3 separate regions of the Homo sapiens genome follow, and regions 2 and 3 are each linked to region 1. The links come from fine-mapping of genetic effects on gene expression. A gene starts in region 1. Each other region holds a variant in brackets. All regions are shown on one strand. Distances are between the middles of the regions. Region 1 holds the start of SMYD3 (SET and MYND domain containing 3). Region 2 overlaps SMYD3 (SET and MYND domain containing 3). Region 3 holds the start of SMYD3-IT1 (SMYD3 intronic transcript 1).

Region 1 (4,239 bases):
AGGAAGCCGGTCCCGTCAAGGCCATGAGAGAGAAAGGTGAGCATGGCATCCCTGCAGCCCAGCCAGCCAGTAGCATGCCCTGGGTCCTTGGTCCCAACCTGTGGAACAGTGTCCCCCTCCCAGGGCACAATTCGCAGGCCAAGAGGGGCCTGGCCTAGACCCCAGCCCTGGGAAGAGCGGGGAACCAGAGGTGTGGTGGGCTCCCAGCTGCAGTCAGCATGGCCATGCAGGGGGCCCTGGTACCACGGAGCTCTGCACTGTCACAATTCACCTCGCAGGGGCCGGCGAGATCCCGAAGCCTCGCAGCAACTGCTGCAGCCACAGCAGGCGCCACCACCACATGCCTTCCAGCCGCCAGTGCAGGGTTTCCCGACAGCAGGGTGTCCTGCAGCCCTCGCCTCAGCGGCTCAGACGCTGAAGGTATCTGTGGTTCATGTTTCTAGTGCTCCCACCAAAGAGAATCACTATGGAGGATGCTCTTGGTCCTGAGGTGAGCAAAACAGCACGCCCTGTGAATGGAGCCGGCTTCTTTCCTGGCCACCATGCTTGCTGGATGGGCCCACGGAGCAAGTGGCCTTGAGACGGGCATGGGAACGGAAGAGGCTCAGCATCCTGCACGTGCCCTTACCGAGGCTCACCAGGCTGACACCACTGCTGAGCGCCCCTCCGTGGATGAGACACTTGCACCCAGTCTCTGGGTTGGCACCATTTCCCAGGAGGACCAGCTGGCCACCTGCTGGCAGGCTAATCACACTGTGGAGGGGGCTGAGATTGGCTTTCACTGCACCAAGCCACAATGTGGACGTGGATTTGCCGGCCCTGCAGTGCACACAGCACTGCTTCTGACCAGGACACCCCATTCACAGCTGGGGATGTGCAGCATTGCGCTCCCACCTCAGGGCCTTGGCTCTGCCACCTCGACTTGGAATGTTCTCAGCTCCCTCCAGGCTTCTAGAAGCATCTGGGACACAGCTCATGGCTGGATAAGCACCCGAGGCCCCACAACCCAAACAAGCTTCCCATCCTCATTTTATTTTTTGTCAAACTTATGAAAATTTATTAAGATATGACTTACATCCCTGGTAAGTGCACAGCTTAAAAGATATTCACAGATGGAACACACCAGCCCCCAGATCACAAAGCCAACCATGCCCAGCCCCTCCCAACACCCCCAGCCCTGAAACCAGTGTTCTGACTTCTGACAGCACCACGAGCCTGCCTTTTGTACTTTACACTCATGGAAGCATAACCACCTTCATGTTTTAAAATAAATGTTTACTTTTGAAATGACTTTAGATACACAGAAAAATTGAAAGGCACTATAGTGTACTCCTACACCTTCCATCCAGCTGCCCTTAATAATGACATTTTGCATTACCATGGCACGTTTGTCCAAACTAAGAAATTTAGGCCGGGTGGGCTGGGCGCGGTGGCTCACGCCTGTAATCCCAGCACTTTGAGAGGCCGAGGCGGGCGGATCACAAGGTTAGATCGAGACCATCCTGGCTAACACGGTGAAACCTCGTCTCTACTAAAAATACAAAAATTAGCCGGGCGTGGTGGCAGGCGCCTGTAGTCCCAGCTACTCAAGAGGCTGAGGCAGGAGAATCGCTTGAACCCGGGAGGCAGAGGTTGCAGTGAGCCAATATCGTACCACTGCATTCCAGCCTGGGCGAGAATGAGACTCCGTCTCAAAAAACAAAACAAAACAAAACAAACCCCAAAAACAAAAAAGAAAATTAAGCTGGGTGTGGTGGCTCACACCTGTAATTCCAGCAATTCGAGAGGTCGAGGCAGGAGGTTCAGGTTCACTTGAGGCCAGGAGTTTGCGACTAGCCTGGGCGACATAGGTAGACTGTCTCTGGAGGAAAGTAAAAAGCATTAGCCAGGCATGGTGGCGTGAGCCTATAGTCCCATCTAGTCAGGAGGCCCAGGCGGGAGGATTGCACATGCCTGTAGTCCCAGCTACTATGGAGGCTGAGGCAGGAGAATCGCTTGAACCCGGAGGTCAGAGGTTGCAGTGAGCCGAGATCTCGCCACTGCACTCCAGCCTGGGCGACAGAGCAAGACTCCGTCCTAAAACAAAAAAAAGTTACAGTGCAAAGTACTAGTTGTGATGTCATGATGCCTGCAACTTTGAAATAGTTTAACGACAATACGTGTATACATAGCTACAGGTGGGGAGAGAGTGACGAGCAGAAATGGCAAAGTGCTAGGTTGTCTGATTTAGGCGGAGGTATATAGGTGTTCACTGCACTGTTTTCAACTGTTCCGTATGCGTTAAAATGATCGTAATACAATGTTAGAGGGAGAAAAAAAACCCCGCCTGTCTTCTGCGCAGTCGCCATGGGCACGAGCCGCACGCGGAGCCTTACGACCACCTTCAGGTCCCACACACTCCACTCCAGCCGTCCCTCCAGACTCCATCTGCGCATGCTCTTGCCCCACCGCGCCCGCCCCGCCCCTCGGGCGTACGTGTGCGCGCAGGGCGCAGGCGCGCGGGTCCCGGCAGCCCGTGAGACGCCCGCTGCTGGACGCGGGTAGCCGTCTGAGGTGCCGGAGCTGCGGGAGGATGGAGCCGCTGAAGGTGGAAAAGTTCGCAACCGCCAAGAGGGGAAACGGGCTGCGCGCCGTGACCCCGCTGCGCCCCGGAGAGCTACTCTTCCGCTCGGATCCCTTGGCGTACACGGTGTGCAAGGGGAGTCGTGGCGTCGTCTGCGACCGCTGCCTTCTCGGGTGCGTAAGGAGCGCCCTCGCCTACCTGAGTCGCGAGCTGTGTGGGGTGCTGGGGAGGGGGGGGCGTCGGGCGGCCGGCAGCCGCGGGACTCCTGCTGGATGGGGCTGCACAGGCAGCTTGGCGGTGCTGCCCCTGACGCGCGTGTGCCCGGGGGCGGGTCGCTGCTGACAGGCCCCGCCCGGACACCCCCCTAGGTTGCCGCAGCGGGGCTGGGAGGGGGCCCAGGCTCAGCCACTGCCCCCCAACCTGGGCTGCGGTGGAAATGGGAAAGCCATTGGGCAGACTTGAGGGGGAAGCGTTGTGCCGGGGATAATTTTGCTGGGAGACGAAAAGTCTGTGTGCTGGACAGTCTTCCTTGGTGCGGCTGTGGAAATCACACGTGGCGGGCGTGGGGCTGGGTGGGAGCTGGGATGAGTATAAATCAGGCTCCCCTGCAGAGGCCCCGCCGGTAAAGCATCAGGCTTGCAGCAGGTGGAAGAATCTTGATGTCTACGGTGCACCTCTGTGGTCTGGGTTGTGTGTGGCCTGGGGATACGAAGAGGAACGGGACCTCCTCAAAGAGCTGATCAAGTGAGAGAGAGAATTACAGTGTACCAGAAGGGCTGAAATAGAGGGGCAATTAATGTGCTGTGGGAGCATCAGACACGGGTCCCCCGTGTGCTGTGCCATTTAATGGCTGTGCAGGCATGTCTAACTCTTAACCACCATTCTAGATGCAGGGATTCACGTGAAGGTGTTTTGGAAGCCTGGACGCGCTGTGCCGGTGTAAAGTGCTATGTGAAAGCAATTTATGGAAATGTGTAACATACATGAATAATAGGAACTGCATTCAGTCAACAAATATTATTGAGCTTCTGTGTGCGAGGAAGAAGAGTTCTATTTTGAGATGAGTGCGATGATTTTGTGCATGGCCGCTTTTCAGACCTGCCAGTCTGAGATTTAGGTGGGTGGAGGTGGGACGGTAAGTGCAAAACTCGTATCTGTAATTTGACCATTGTTCTTACTTTGTTCTCATTTGATTCATAATTCAGGAATATGACTTTGCATTTTAGAGCTACCAAATAATAATTTTGTCTGTTGCTTTCTGAAGTAATGATAACAGCGAAAACATCTGTTCGGGAGAGAGCAGCATCTTGAAGTTTTTGTAAACTGTGTGGTTGAAAACAATTCGTTCCTTTCAAGATAGTTCTTGGAACAGAAAAGTTTTGGAATGAATAAATGGTGACAAATTGGCAATTGAATCATTAGAGCTGAAGTTGAGTCTTGTGACACACGGAATTGTGCATTTCCAAAATAAGCTACACAAACCCTTTGTGGGTGGGATGCTTGTTGATTTACCATACTATTTCATTAGTCTCATTCATTTTTCCTGTTTGCAGTAACTGGGGATTTAAGCAAAAAAGGAATTTAATGAAAGAGTTTTGGGGGAGTTCTCAGTGTTGCTTTAAAGTCTGCCAAGACTTGACTGGGCATCGGCTGAACCAAGTTAGGATTGCACTGCA
Region 2 (4,239 bases), 690 kb after region 1:
TTCGGCCATCTTGGCTCCTCTTTTTTTTTTTTTTTTTTTTTTACATAGATGAAGGGGACCTCTCATAATAGATGGCACCTTGAGTTGGGTTGTAGCTGGCTTTTGCAGTTGCTTAGATGAGTATTGCATTGTTCCAGTCGTCCTATTCTGAAATGTGTCTGAGAATCCTGTTTTAGAGCCAAGCTCCATTCTAGCAAACAGTAGTGCAAGCCCCACTCCTTGGCCTGATTGATACAGTAATGGCACTGTCCACCCCCTAGCCACCCCGGGAGTACTCTCTGTGGGGAGTTTGCTGCTGCCGTCTAAACTGAAATGGACTTGATTTTCTCTTCTGAGTAGATGCTCAGCTGTAATCCATTGGGAGAAAATTCTTGATTTCTTGGGATATTTAGGAAGGCTAGCGACAGGTAGGAGCTTCTTTATTTATTATGCTTTTCTCTAGAAGCTTCATTGAATACATTATCTTCTGCCCCACACCCCAGGGCTTTGACCAAAATATCCTTGAGATACTGTGGCCCATATTCGGTCACAGAGGTGCACTGTTCTTTTGAAAGAATGGCATGCCGCAACTTACCTACTCACCTACAGAAGGTGAGTGCTGCAAGGCAGTCCCAGTAGGCACTTGGAGTGGAGCTTTGATGAATCCGAAGGATCATGGGCTTTGGAATCACAAGACCCAGGTCCAAGGCCTGATCTCTGCTTCTTACCAGCAGGCTGTGAAGGCTGTGAAACACTTCAAAGGCCCGTAATTTCTCAGTTTGTAAAAACAGCGATTTTCATTTCTGTCTCTTAGGGGTTGATTCAGTGAGACAGTGGCTGTGGAAAAACTTTATAGACTGTAAAGTGTTAAAGACATATCCTTTGTCTCTGTTCTTATCTAAGAATGATGTTTTAATGCTTTTGAGCAGGACACAGAGAGGTGCTACAGGGACAGGGTTGCTTCTACCACCAGCCATCTGGCTATGTTGATAACTGGGATCTGTGTACTTCTTGACCTGTGATGCTCAAGTCTTAATATGCATCAGAGTCACTTGGGGGCTAGGCCCCATGTCTCTAAAATCCCCTTGGTTGATCTGGGATCCATGTGTCATTAGCTCCCCAGCTATTCTGATGGAGGTTACCCATAAGCTCCACTTTGAGAAAAACTAGAGCGTACAGCTTGGACTAGATGACCATGGAGATTGGGATGGAAGGAAAAGCATGGTAGGGTCATGTCTGTGTGCACCCCTGAATGAGAGGCAAGGACTCCTTCGTGTTGAGTTAACCAACAGCTCTTCTGGGCTCTGCCACTATCACGTTCCATTTGTTAACAGTTGCTTCCTGTGTGTGTTTGTGTTTTTTTCTGGTTGGGATGTTTGGCCTCTTTTAGTTGTGAGAAACAATGCTGGGGCCATGAGTGTAAAAGCATCTTCTGTTTTATTGTTGGTAGCAATAGTTGCCTGGCTTGACTGAAAGTCATTTTCCTTGGAGGTTGTACCTAAAGATTTAGCGGATGGATCAAGACCATTGTCCTGCTCTGGCTTTCTGATATCACCTCACCTCATGGTGTCTGTGGGCTTAGTTTACCCTTCATTTATTTTGAGCACCAATGGACAGCTGTCTTTGTTTTGTGTGTTTTGTGAGGAAGATGTCTTGGGAGCCTTCAGTGAAGATAGAGTGTGTGTGTGTGCATGCGTGTGTGCGTGCGTGTGTGTGTGCTTGCGTGTGTGTGCGTGCATGTGTGTGCGTGTGTGCGTGCGTGTGTGTGTGTGCATGGTGGGATAAGGGATAAGGTCATTTGAGAGGATCTGGAAGCCAAGGGAAACAGGTCTGCTGGGAATTCCAAAATTCTGTCTAGTAGAAGATCTTAAAGTTTATTCCTCATCGGAGCTCTTAGCAGAGCCGGCACAAGCTTAAGTGACCTTGAAGCCTTTAGAAAGAGCAGCTTCTCCGCAATGCCAGTCACATGGCACAGAAGATCAAGATGTTGTTTAAATAAAATCTTGCAGCAGCATCCATTTCACAGGTCCCTGGGGCCGCGTGTAGTCAGTACTAGAAGGGCAAGACTTTAAAACAAGTATGTGGTGTAACAGTAGCATTCTTTTTATTTTATTTATTTATTTTTATTGTTTATTTTTTCGTTTTTATTTTTTTTTTGCCCCCAGTTGAAGAAGACCAGGAAAGAATCTTCTTTTAAAAAACTGAGCTCTATCTGTCCTGATTCCTGGTGCTGCTTCAG[G/T]TATCTACCTTAATTTTCTTATATTCCTATGAAGACAGTGGTTTGGATAATTGGAGGTAGCTATACACTGAAATTATTAAATTGTTTACCTTCAAAACAGGAGTAGACCAGAAATGCAGGTCCTTGTCCTCAGAACTGCAGTTCACATCATATTCAGTAATTAATTTAATAGTCACGTTTTCCTCCCAGGCTAGACAGGAAGGGCACTAACTTTGACTTAGGATCCCTTTTGTAGCTCCCACATTATGTGAGGATATCAATTTGCCTTCTGTTTATTTTTCTTTATTATAAAAATAAATTTATTATAAAAACTTTATTATAAAATTTTGCTGTCATTTAAAAATATACGGAAAAGGTGAAACAATGAAGAAATCTACAATCACCTAAAAGCAACTACAATGAATATTTTAGCTGATCTCATGCCAGTGATTCATCTGTATATATATATATATATATATATATATATATATATATATATATAGGGCTCCATGAATTAACCTAAATGACAGAGCAGGTTAGGTGCTTAATATTCTGAGGCCATCTAAACTCAACATCTTGCCTTTCTCTTGAGGGCAGCTCCTCCACTAGTCCCTTTTCTTCATGGTTTCAGAGACTTTCCCAGCCTGCCAGTCTTCATTTGGAGGCTTTCTATGGAGCTTTGTGAAATCACAGTAAACCCTTTGACATGCAGCGCTGTTGCCCACCTAGTCTTCAGCCTTGCTGTAAAGGTGAAGTAGATTAGTTAGACAGGGTTTTGCCCTTCTGACTCCTTGTTGATTATCTCTTTTTAGATAATTACTATTCATGTACCTTTCTCAATGCCCTTAGGTGAGAGAATAGCTTCCTTTCTTCCTGATTTGATTCTGTAGCATAGACAACCTTCCTTTCAGGGGGCTGGATTCATTTAACTCTTATCTTCAGGCCAGCTGCTGTGCTTGCACCTGGGGGAAGGAGGTTTGCTTGTGTGCTGCATGTTGACCCTTATACATTTTATCTAAGAGAACATTTTCAAATGAAAGAAGCTGTCTAGGCCTGGTGCGGTGGCTCATGCCTGTAATCCCAGCACTTTGAGAGACCCAGGCAGGTGGATCCCAAAGTCAGGAGTTCGAGACCAGGCTGGCCAACATAGTGAAACGCCGTCTCTCCTAAAAATACAAAAATTAGCCGGGCGTGGTGGCGGGCGCCTGTAGTCCCAGCTACTTGGGAGGCTGAGGCAGGAGAATCACTTGAACCTGGGAGGCGGAGGTTACAATGAGCTGAGATCGCGCCACTGCACTCCAGCCTGGGCAACAGAGCGAGACTCCGTCTCAAAAAAAAAAAAAAAAAAAAAAAAAAAGAAGCTGTCTCATGACCATGGCTCCATGCCTTCCTCTCCTCCTCACCTCCTCACCCCAACTACCCCTCTATTCTTTGCTCAAATCAAACTCCGGCTTGCCCACTAGATGAGATTTACTCACCCACAGTAGTCTGTATTTTTCCAAAGAAGAAAAAGAGGTATTCATGACTATATCCTGATAAATGATGAAGCCTTCCCTCCCAGCCCACTCTGAGTGAGTGAGTGACCCCTTTCTTCTCAGTTCCTGCTACTGAGTGAGTTTCTCTGTCTCTCTCGCTCGCTCTTTCTCTTTTTTTTTTTTTTTGGAACTGTTGTTTAGAAGTAAGAATTTGTCATTCTTACCAAAGCACTGGGCATGGGCCTGTTCTCTCTTGGGCTACTCTGACCAGGGGTTGGTTTCCTAGACCTGCATCCAGGTGTGTTTTCACGGAAAATACCCCTCCCTCTCTTAGGGTTTCCTCGGGCAGCCCTGGTGACGTTGGTCACAATGGAGGATGCTGAGAGGACAGTGGTGGTTGGGCACACCCTCTCGTAGAGCACAGGACCAATGTCTTCCTGACGGTGTTCACTCATTCCTTTGTGCGGCCATCAGATAGCAGTGGTGGTGCCTGGTAGTAGGGGAAGGTTTACAAACCCTGGGGCAGCTCCTGCATGAGGAGGGCCAGCACATTCAGGGAACTGAAAT
Region 3 (4,239 bases), 180 kb after region 1:
CGCCCCCGCGACTCCTTCTCCCTCCTTCCTGCCCCCCGACTCCTTCTCCCTCCTTCCCGCTCCCCCGACTCCTTCTCCCTCCTTCCCGCCCCCTGACTCCTTCTCCTTCCTTGTTCATGAAAGATCCTAAATTAACCTAAATAGATCCTGCAGCTTTCAGGGATGAGTCACTGAGCCCAGAATGTTGACGGTGTGTGATGGTGCAAGTCACATCAAGCACACGGGAACTGGGTGAAGATCCCTGGGCAGAGATTTTTATCCCAGTCTACTGCTCCTCTCCTCATTTTACTCTGGTATAAAATTAATTAATCAAAGAGAAGAAACGGGCACCATAAAAAAATAACATAAAACAGGATTTTGTTTATTGAGGCCAGGTAAAGCCAGCCTTCTTCACAGCGAAAATTCAAAAGTCAGTTCATTAGGCTGTGGAAAGCGGGTCAACATGCAACTATCCCTGACTGACAGTTTGTACATACAGAGGAAGCTGCTGACTTCTGAATTTACGCTGTCAACAAGGCTGGCTATACCTGGCCTCAATAAACAAGATCTTGTTTTTTGTTTTTCTTTTGGTTCCTCTCATTTACATTCATTCAGGTTCTGTGCAGATAATAGACATACTAAGCTTATGTTTTAGCCCATCTTTTTTTTTTTTTTTTTTTTTTGAGATGGAGTTTTCGCTCTTGTCGCCCAGGCTAGGGTGCAGTGGCGCAACATCGGCTCACTGCAACCTCCGCCTCCCGGGTTCAAGCGATTCTGCTGCCTCAGCCTCCCAAGGAGCTGGGATTACAGGCGCCTGCCACCACACCTGGCCAATTTTTGTATTTTTAGTAGAGACAACGTTGCACCACGTTGGCCAGGCTGGTCTCAATCTCCTGACCTCGGATGATCCGCCCGCCTTGGCCTCCCAACGTGCTGGGATTACAGACGTGAGCTACCGCACCCGGCCAGTTTTAGACCATCTAATTTTCATTGAAAGGCATATGGAATTCTGAGAGCTTTTCTAAAATTGCTTATGTCTTAATTTTTTTGACTTTTAAATTATGGACATTTTCAAACACACACAAAAATAGAGGGACTAGTAGAATGAATCTTCATGTTTCTATCAGCTGGTTTCCCTAATTTTCAGACTCATTTTATATCTGTCATTTTTAATACTTACAGTTCACACAGATGTTCTTTCTCTTCGGAGTTTTAAACCTTCATTAGAATTAGTCTTTTCTTACCAAGTCTCTTGCCCTGCTGAGAGGTGTTTGTTAGTTGAATCTGAATTTGCTTAGCAAGTACAGCAGACTTTTATTTATTTATTTGCAGGTCTAGTGTGTACAAAATACTCTTGACACAGGGTTGTAGAAGTATGTGGCTAATTCTAAATCTCAAAATTATCTATCAAGGCAGAAAACTTCAGCAGGTCAAAAGTCTTACTTGAAGAATATGCATATCTTTATCAAACTTGCACTTCCCCTGAAAGGAAAGGGCTCAGGGAGGATGAGAAAGTTCTTAATCCCGAGAGCATATTTCGTCGTCTGGTGAGCTGATGGCTTTTTCTAATGGAAGCTCATGATTATTGCCTGAAAAGTTGGCAGTTTGTATTTTGAACACTGGAGTTTCTGGCGGAAAAATGGTGTGTCTTTCCTGTCGGACCGGGTTCTCAATGCTGAACGTGCATCTGCTGCGTAAGCCTTAATTTTACCTGGAAAATTTCTTCTGTTACTTGTAATTTTCCCGGTCATATTCCCAGATATTCCTCCTTTTCACCCCACTTCTTAGCACCAGTGTTAGTCTGACTCTGACTCTTAGCACCAGTGTTAATACACACACACCCTAATAGCAATTGGAGTTTGATTGTGGAGTTTTCTATATAGATATATCCTGTCCACTTATGAATTTGTTGCCTGGCTGTAAAAACTGAGTAACATGAGCCATAGGAAGGAGGAATTTTTCTAGGGGTGGGTGTCAAGGAGGACCTCATATCAGAAGTGGAAACTGACGTAAATTTCAAAAGCGAGGCTGGTGTTGGGAAACAGTGATATACAGTGGTCTAGAAATGCTGTTGGGGAGTGAGGGTGTTGATTCCTCCAACCTCCTGAGGGAAATATATCAACCTCCTCCGGAGAAGGTTTTCAAAGGAAGTTGTTACCTGTGGAATACAGATTTCAGTTATATTTAG[T/C]AATTACAGTAGAGTTAGAATAAGAGCTTGATGTTTAAAATGTTTGTTTTGCACTAAATGTAATAGAAAGTGAGGGTAGGGATACTCCCAGAATTTCTCTAGAGGAGGGGATGCTGAGTGATAATCTGTTGGATGGAGAGGCTAGAGCAAATTACTTGCAGCTTTATTTGGATAGTTTTGTTTTTTTTAAAAAACTTAGATTGTATGTTCCCTGGGGAGTGTGTGGCTGAACGGAGATAAAAGTGTAAAGTGTGAGCAATGAAAGGTGTTAATTTCCACAGACAGCAATGAAGGTGTTGAAAGGATAGGAAGTGCACCGGGGATATACAGATGAACACAGGAGATGTGATTATTTATATGCATATAAAAAATAAAGGCCAATTTCATCTCTGCTGGCTCTTTTTCACATTGTTTAGAGAAGAGAAGATGTATGTCTCCATCTCTACAAGCTGTTTCTCCTCTCTACCACACACTTTTTTTTTTTTTTAAATCTCCACTTCCATTTTCAAACAAAATTTCCTTTGAGATTTTTTTCCCCCTCTTTGGGAATAGGGTCTCACCCTGTTGCCCAGGCTGGAGTGCAGTAGCGTGATCTCGGCTCACTGCACCTCTGCCTCCTGGCTTTCAAGTTGAGTCTTGTGCCTCAGCCTCCTGAGTAGCTGGGATTACAGGCATGCGCCACCACACCGGGCTAATTTTTGTATTTTTAGTAGAGATGGGCTTTTGTCATGTTGGCCAGGCTGGTCTCAAACTCTTGACCTCAAGTGATCCACCCACCTTGGCCTCTCAAAGTGCTGGGATTACTGGTGTGAGCCACCCCACCCAGCACCTGTTAGATTTTGAAATGGATTTATTGGTCAGGCACAATGGCTCACTCCTATAGTCCTAGCACTTTGGTATGCCGAGGCAGGAGGATCACTTGAGCCCAGGAGTTTGAGATCAGCCTGGGCAACATAGCGAGATGCCATCTTTACAAAAAAACTTAAAAAAAAAATTAGCTGAGAGCAGGGTGGTACACACCTGTAGTTCCAGCTACTTGGGAGGCTGAGGTGGGAGGATTGCTTGAGCCTAGGAAGTCGAGGCTGCAGTGAGCTGTGATCTCACCACTGCACTCCAGCCTGGACTACAAAGTGAGACCCTGTCTCAAAAAAATTTATCATGGCATGACAAATGCTGTGATTCGGTGTACTGATTGGGTCCGAAACATTTGCTACAAATATAGAAAATGTATATACTCCTAAGCATAAATATATCCTTCGAAACTCAGAAAATTACAATTAGCTACTCGGTGTGCTGAGATGGGAGGATTGCTTGAGCCCCGGAGTTTGAGACTGCAGAGAACCATGAGTGCTGCTTGGGGGACGGAGTGAGACCCCAACTCAAAACAAACAAAAATTACAGTTAGAGAGAGGCCAAATTTAAATGGGAGGCTGAATAATATGATGGTTAGGTCATTTTCCTCAGTCAAGTAAATAAAATTCTCTCCATCTCAATTTTCTTATCTGTAAATGGAAATACTAATATCTACTTCATAGATTTCAAGGAGGATCAACTATAACGTACTTAGTAGTGTCTGACACATATTATTAATTTCTACTACTGTTGCTCCCACCTCTCAGCTTTATTTTTATTGGATTATAGAACTTTGGTGTTTTAAATCTCCCTGTGCTGTCATCTAGCCAAGAGCGCAGTCTGCCACTGTTTGTAAACTAGAGTCTCAGATGGTTGCTCACAGTTGTGCCCAGTGCTGGTGTCTCTTGAGATCCTGAGAATTACCTGTTTTGTTGAGAAGAAATTTTGCAAACAGGCAATGGTGTCTTTTCTTGAGGCTTAGTTTCAGTCATAGCCATTGTGGACAGAAATCATGTACTGTTGCCAACATTCTTAGAAACTCCATGGTATCAAAGTAGTTTCTTGGAATTTCACGTGGGAAATGTAAAAGTAGGCTTCCCTTGATGATGGAAATCTTTCTCACACATGCATCTTAAAAGGATGGAATTAAGCGTGCTTCAGTTGTCATGTTCTAATTAATTGAAACGCCATGGAATGTATTGTATTTCTCTATTCTATCC

The links. PIP is the estimated chance that this variant, and not a neighbour inherited with it, causes the effect. A credible set is the group of variants that fine-mapping cannot tell apart.
Region 2: its variant is the best candidate, but not a certain one, in a credible set for the expression of SMYD3 in whole blood (TOPMed, PIP 0.62).
Region 3: its variant is the best candidate, but not a certain one, in a credible set for the expression of SMYD3 in whole blood (TOPMed, PIP 0.50).

The regions. Positions count from the first base shown.
Region 1 is chr1:246,505,551-246,509,789 of GRCh38, reverse strand. It overlaps SMYD3 (SET and MYND domain containing 3), which reads left to right and starts at 2,511. Exons shown (of 12, transcript NM_001167740.2): 1 at 2,511-2,736. The coding sequence starts at 2,573. RefSeq lists silencers at 1,652-1,884, 2,374-2,553, 2,824-2,873 and enhancers at 2,559-3,059, 3,060-3,560.
Region 2 is chr1:245,812,321-245,816,559 of GRCh38, reverse strand. The region is part of intron 10 of SMYD3 (SET and MYND domain containing 3); the gene reads left to right. Among named protein-coding and RNA genes, the nearest start is that of SMYD3-AS1, 290 kb to the left of the region's middle. RefSeq lists an enhancer at 1-342. The variant G/T (reference allele first, on the strand shown) is at 2,219.
Region 3 is chr1:246,320,840-246,325,078 of GRCh38, reverse strand. The region is part of intron 5 of SMYD3 (SET and MYND domain containing 3); the gene reads left to right. It overlaps SMYD3-IT1 (SMYD3 intronic transcript 1), which reads left to right and starts at 2,641. Exons shown (of 2, transcript NR_189283.1): 1 at 2,641-2,795; 2 at 3,211-4,239. RefSeq lists an enhancer at 284-804. The variant T/C (reference allele first, on the strand shown) is at 2,168.